Homo sapiens: one gene and its partner. The protein of the gene in region 1 interacts with the protein of each later gene in a pairwise test. Each region holds a gene or a part of one and is shown on either strand. Other genes may lie near its edges.

Region 1 (3,271 bases):
AATTTTTTCATTGCAAATGTTTAAAAATCAGAAGGTTTTATAACTTAATCTTGATTTCTTGTTTCTCTTGGAAAATCAGAAAATTGGGTTAACTGGGCCCACCTTTCCAACAAAAGGGTAAAAATCTACTAAAGATGTGTGGGGCTGCCCCTTGTAATAATGACATGGGAACTCTACCACTGTCTCCACCCCTTACTGAGGTTTTTCAATATCCAGTGTCATTCATTTATGTGATCTGCCTGCCTTCTTTAATCACATGGTATTTTATTCCTCCGTCAGACTTTAGCTATATAAAGATGAATCCTTTCCCCCATTGACTTCATAATCTAATGACAGAGATTTGCAGTTCTAAGGAGGATGTGATATAGAAACTTTAAAAAGGCTCTTATAAGGGGATTATATAATGTGTGTATGTATATGTGTGCATAATATGCATGTATAAAAATTTTATGTAAGGGTATGCATAATAGCAGTTCTTCATGTAAGGGATGGAATCTCTGTCCTACATCCAGAGAAGTGAAAAGTAATTTCTCATTCAAGGAACAATATTAACAGAAGTTTGGCTGGCATATATTTTATTTTTAGTAAATAAATGAAAACACTGGAAAAACATTGTGTAATCCTTGTATTTGATACTAAAAAATTTATGTTTCATCTGGCAGTCTTTCTTGATGGATACCTTAAAGCATCCATTCCATGTAATAAATTAACTTTTCTTCTATTTATCTAGAATGATGATATCAAGGTACTCTCATGGAAAGAATTGAGAAATAGTCACTTGAAGAATTTTCCATAGAGTTGACAATGGAAACTTTGACACCTCAAAGCAGAAATTATCAGTATGAGGGACCACTAAGGAACATGAAATCCACCAGGGTGTCACTGGGCATGGAAACTTGAAGTAATAAAAGAGATAAAAGCCTGTTCCACAGCAGGGGCAGGAGTCATTCTAAAACAGAGAATAACTCAAGAGGCATTTCATAGGTGTACTATGTGGAACTAATTCATGGATTTGATATCAATTGAGGATGAAAAAAATTTTGGAGATAAACTTGATGTGTTATTATTCTGATATTACATTGGCCAAGTTAAGAATCTTGGAGGAAAAACACTTGATTTGTGTCCTCTTGACCATTATGATAGTCTGCTTTTTAAAAAGTAAGGTATCAAATACTAATACACATCTAGGTCAGGGATCAGCAAAATATAATCAATGAGCTGTAGTTGATTATATAAAATATATATGGGAAGTTAATGACTTGAATTAAGGTCATGTTGGATTTTAGTTATGTATAGGAAAAGAATGGAGAGTTTTCAGCAAACAGACAGTAATTGAATCTCTAAGAAGGTTATCTTAATGGTGAGTAAGAGAGAGCCTAGTAGACCTTTTATCCAATATAGGTGATAAGAGAGTCTGTCTCCTTCAAGGACTCTTGGTAGGGGGAAAAAATATGGCCACATGAAACTGACATACCAAGTCAGCTCTGTCTATGAGCTTGAAATCTGAATTCCTGCCACTGTTGTGTTTCAGGAATCTCAAAATATAGAAACTGATCCTGAGTAGTGATAAATTTTATATGGTCAACTATAGCCCACAGATTTTTTTTCCTGCCCTCTCAACTAGATTTTCATTAGTATTCAATAAATATGTTTTTAAAAAGCAGACAATCCTAATGGTCAAGAGTATAGACACTGGAGCCAGATGCCCAGGTTTGAAACCCATCTTCACAACACTTATCTATGTGACTTTAACAAATTCTTTCACTTCTCTTTGCTTTAGTTTTTTTACATGAAAATTGGGTGTAATAACAGTAAATAAATAAATCATTAGTAAGTAAATAAAATAGCTTACCAGCAACTATTAATATACTCATGATACACTTTTTATATTTCTTTGCTACATACCTAGATCCTATATGCTGTCATTATATTTCAGTATTTTGCATTTATATTTGCATTGTGAGATGAATCTATGGTTTTCTTTTTAGAATGCTTTTACCAATTAGTATTGCACTCATGGATTTGAAAGTTTAACATTATACAATACCAATTTATTATTTCCAAATGTTGACATTTTATTATAGTGATTTTCTATTCCAAAATGTCTACAATTTAGCTAAAAATTATCTAGTCCTGCTAATTTATTGGTTGAAGATCATTATTTGCATTTCTTATCCTTGCCATAAAAAATGTATTCTCTACTTTGTTAAATTTCTTGCTGTAGTAATCAAAAAGGGCAAATGTTAATATCTTTATCTGTATAGTGTTGAGTTTACGGTGGCTAGTAAGTTGTCAGCTGCATTTTTCATTTTTTTAAATTTCAGAATTAAAAAATAAAACATAAGAGTTTTCATTACTAGCTTCAAATGCTTCAATGACAGCTATTAGCAGAAAAATACTAACATGTACAAGAAAGGATTTGTATTAGTTTATTTCACCACAGTAGTATTTCATTACACATAATCCCTAAAACTCAGCAGCTTGCAATAAGTGTTTATACTCATGCTTATGGGTGTGTAGGTCAACTGTGTTTCAGTGGATGTATTTAAGCACTGACTTAGGCGCATGTTAACCTCAATCTGCTCCAGGTAGATTTGTTCTATGGCTGTAGCAGCAGCAGCTACCTGAGTCATGCTTTTCTAGTGGCTTGTCACTGAAGATCATAAGCCAGGCCAAAGCACTTAGCCAAGTTTAAGGACACTACTCATGTCATATCTGCTAACACCCGTTGTTCAAACAAGTAACATGGCCAAGCCTAATTATGAAGGAACAGGAAGTATACTGGCCCTACAGAAGGAGAGGGAATGAAATGAATATTTGATGAACAGTATTATGCTATCAGCTTCATATTAGATGTTTATTTCTAGTATTTTACAAACTATCCACTTGTACTCAAATAAAATGAGTCAAGTATTTTTAGATTCCCCACATTTATTTAGCTGAAAAGGACACTCCTCTGTTAATACAACTATATGTGTACATAGTTTTGTGAATTTCAGCTACATTCAGTCCCCACCTGCCCTCCTAGAGGAGTTGCCTTAGTCTGAGCAAAGTCCATTCAACCCTATATGATGGCCCTGGGCTTTCCTCAGGCAGAATTGTAAAATTAGGAAACTTCTACTTCGGAGCTCATTTGTTCATACACTCTTCATCTTTTATTCACACCCCACTAGTTATCCACTCTCAACCTCAACCCTTGGCGTGGGGCATTTCATCAAGTTACTTATTGGTATTTGCCTTTACTCCAAACTGCTAATCTTTTCTAGGTGCT
Region 2 (3,807 bases), on another chromosome or scaffold:
GGCTGGTCTCAAACTCCTGACCTCAGGTGATTCACCCACCTTGGCCTCCCAAAGTGCTGAGATTACAGGTGTGAACCACCGTGCCTGGCCTTGACCTTTTTTTTTTTTTTTTTTTGAGACGGAGTCTCGCTCTGTCGCCTGGGCTGGAGTGCAGTGGTGTGATCTCAGCTCACTGCAAGCTCCGTCTCCCAGGTTCACGCCATTCTCCTGCCTTAGCCTCCCGAGTAGCTGGGACTACAGGTGCCCGCCACCATACCCGGCTCATTTTTTGTATTTTTAGTAGAGACTCGGTTTCACCGTGTTAGCCAGGATGGTCTCAATCTCCTGACCTCGTGATCTGCGTGCCTCAGCCTCCCAAAGTGCTGGGATTACAGGAGTGGGCCACCGCACCCAGCCCTGGACCTTTTTTTTTTTTAACTTTTATTTTGTATTTATTTATTTATTTTTGAAACGGAGTCTCGCTCTGTTGCCCAGACTGGAGTCCAGTGGTGCGATGTCGGCTCAGTGCAACCCCTGCCTCCTGAGTTCAAGCGATTCTCCTGCCTCAGCCTCCTGAGTAGCTGGGATTACAGGCATGCACCACCATGCCCAGCTAATTTTTGTATTTTCAGTAGATACAGGGTTTTGCCATGTTGGCCAGACTGGTCTTGAACTCCTGACCTCGTGATCTCCCCACTTCGGCCTCCCAAAGTGCTGGGATTACAGGTGTGAGCCACCACGCCCGGCTGACCTTTTTATAAAAAAAAATTTGCTGGGTAGGTGCGGTGGCTCACACCTGTAATCTGAGCACTTTGGGAGGCCAAGGTGGGATGATCACTTGAGCCCAGGAGTTTAAGACCCTCATTTCTATTATTATTATTACTATTATTATTATTATTTTTTTTTTTGAGATGGGGTCTCGCTCTGTCGCCAGGCTAGAGTGCAATGGCACGATCTCGGCTCACTGCAACCTCTGCTTCCTGGGTTCAGGCGATTCTCCTGCCTCAGCCTCTCGAGTAGCTGGGACTACAGGCGTGCGCCACCACGCCCAGCTAATTTTTTGTATTTTTAGCAGAGACAGGGTTTCACCATGTTGGCAAGGATGGTCTCAAACTCCCGATGTCAGGCGATCTGCCCATCTTGGCCTTCCAAAGTGCTGGGATTACAGGTGTGAGCCACCGTGCCCAGCCTGGAGTTTCACTCTTGTTTCCCAGGCTAGAGTGCAATGGCGTAATTTCAGATCACTGGAACCTCTGCCTCCTGGGTTCCAGTGATTCTCCTGCCTCAACCTCACGAATAGCTGGGATCACAGGCATGCAACACCAAGCCCAGCTAATTTTTGTAGTTTTGGTAGAGACCTGGTTTGGCCACGTTGGTCAGGCTAGTCTCAAACTTCTCACCTCAGGTGATCCACTCGCCTTGGTCTCCGAAAGTGCTGGGATTACAGGTGTGAGCCACCACGCCCGGCCGTTCGTTTTTTTAATAAAAGAAGAAAGTTAGATCACTTGGGGCCAGGAGTTCGAGACCAGCCTGGCTAACATGGTGAAACCCCTTGTCTACTAAAAATACCAAAAAAAAAAAAAATTAGCCAGGTGTGGTGTACGTGCTTGTAATCCCAGCTACTCCGGAGTCTGAGGCGTGAGCATCGTTTGAACCTGGTAGGCAGAGGTTGCAGGGAGCTGAGATTGTGCCATTGCACTTCAGCCTGGATAATAGAGTGAGACCTTTCTGTCTCAAACATAAAAAATTAAGAAAGAAAAGGCCGGGCGTGGTGGCTCATGCCTGTCATCCCAGCACTTTGGGAGGCCAAGGCGAGCAGATCACAAGGTCAGGAGATCGAGACCATTTTAGCTAACACGGTGAAACCCTGTCTCTACTAAAAATACAAAAAAAAAAAAAAATTAGGCGTGGTGGTGGGCACCTGTAACCCCAGCTAGTCGGGAGGCTGAGGCAGGAGAATGGCGTGAACCCAAGAGGCGAAGCTTGCAGTGAGCCGAGATCGCGCCACTGCACTCCAGCCTGGGCGACACAGCAAGACTCTGTCTCAAAAAAAAAAATTAAGAAAGAAAAAAGCGACGGCGAGACTCTTGTCTCAAAAAAAAAGAAAAAAGAAAAAAGTCGTAAGAGAAAATATATTTCCTATTTATGCAGTGGAAGCGGATCACCATAAAGAGCTTCATCCTCATGGCCTTCACCTTGAGTGGGCTGAGGAGGAGGACGAGGGGCTGGTCTTGTTGTCTTGGGTAGCAGGGGTGGAAGAAAATCCACGTGTCCGTGATCATACATAGCTCACTCCTGTGTTGCTGAAGGGTCACCTGTCATAGAAGAGGGAAGAATTGTGTGGCCTGTGCGGATTCTGCATTCAGCCTTGTGTGTTGTGTTACGGTTAACCAGGGACGTGTGCCCCACTAATAACTCTGATTCCTGGAAGGAATGGCATGGCAGCCTCCGTTGTCATGGTTCCTGGAGGGAATGGCATGGCAGCCTCCGTTGTCATGGTTCCTGGAAGGAATGGCATGGCAGCCTCCGTTGTCATGGTTCCTGGAAGGAATGGCATGGCAGCCTCCGTTGCCATGGCAAGGCAAAGCCATGGCAGCTTCCTGGTTATCACTCCTGGCATGTGGTAGGTGCTTGTCCAGTGAAATCCTAGTCGTTGCTGCATTGGCAGGTGCCCTGGCGTGAGGAAGGGCAGGCAGTCACCATGCCCTTTGCTCTCCTGGGCCCTGCATCTGCTTATGGATGAGGCTGCGTGTAGCTGACATGCGTGTCTCTCCTGCATCTGAGTAATTGTCGTCGTCTTTTTTTTTTTTTTTTTTTTGAGATGGAGCTTCGCTCTTGTTGCCGAAGTTGGAGTGCAATGCCACGATCTCGGCTCATTGCAAACTCCACCTCGTGGGTTCAAGCAGTTCTCCTGCCTCAGCCTCCCGAGTAACTGGGACTAAAGGTGCCCGCAACCATGCCCGGCTAATTTTTTGTGTTTTTAGTAGAGACGGAGTTTCACCATGTGAGCTAGGATGATCTCGATCTCCTGACGTTGTGGTCTGCCCACCTCGGCCTCCCAAAGTGCTGGGATTATAGGCGTGAGCCACCACGCCCGGCCAAGTGATTGTTTTATGTTTATTCTGTTTTGGGTTGAACTATAGTTTGCTTGGAGAAAATAATGTCTGTTAAATTTGCGTTAGAGGATAATTGTTTACTGAGCCAAATAATCTTTCTTGTGAGAACCTATTCTGGGTTTCCCCTGGGCCCTCTGCTGTGGTTTCGGCGGGAGTTGGTTTGTGTGGATTTTCAGGACTGCTGACTTGATCAGACAGGCACAACACAGTCCCGGCCCTCAGGCAGGCCTTCTCCCTGGTCTGATGCTGAACTGCATGGCGTCTGTTCAGATGAAGATTCTTTTGCCACCTCCTTAAATGAAAGAACGATACTGAATGTGGCTTAGAAACAGCTTTGCCAGCCGTGCAGAATGATTGTAAGTAGTGGTTGCCCGAAAAGTATTTGCTTGGAATACCACTCACTGATAACACTGGTGAACCTGGAAGGAATTATACGGAGTGAAAAAAGGCACCACTCACTGATAACACGAATGAACCTGGAAGGAATTATACGGAGTGAAAAAAGGCTCCGCTCACTGATAACGCGGGTGAACCTGGAAGGAATTACACGGAGTGAAAAAAGACCCTGCTCACTGGTAAGGCGGGTGAACCCAGAAGGAATTACACAGAGTGGAAAAAAGACTCCGCTCACTGATAACGCGGGTGAACCCAGAAGGAATTACACGGAGTGGAAAAAAGGCCCCGCTCACTGATAACGCGGGTGAACCCAGAA

Evidence for each region. The genes of interacting proteins can lie anywhere in the genome.
Region 2: the proteins of PLSCR1 (region 1) and SPG7 interact in a two-hybrid assay, tested with the Homo sapiens proteins (one large-scale study listed by BioGRID and IntAct).

What each region holds. Positions count from the first base shown.
Region 1 is NC_000003.12:146,517,640-146,520,910, reverse strand, and holds part of PLSCR1 (phospholipid scramblase 1), read left to right. Parts: intron 1-3,271. UniProt on the Homo sapiens protein: Catalyzes calcium-induced ATP-independent rapid bidirectional and non-specific movement of phospholipids (lipid scrambling or lipid flip-flop) between the inner and outer leaflet of the plasma membrane resulting in collapse of the phospholipid asymmetry which leads to phosphatidylserine externalization on the cell surface.
Region 2 is NC_000016.10:89,514,840-89,518,646, forward strand, and holds part of SPG7 (mitochondrial inner membrane m-AAA protease component paraplegin isoform 1 precursor), read left to right. Parts: intron 1-3,807. UniProt on the Homo sapiens protein: Catalytic component of the m-AAA protease, a protease that plays a key role in proteostasis of inner mitochondrial membrane proteins, and which is essential for axonal and neuron development.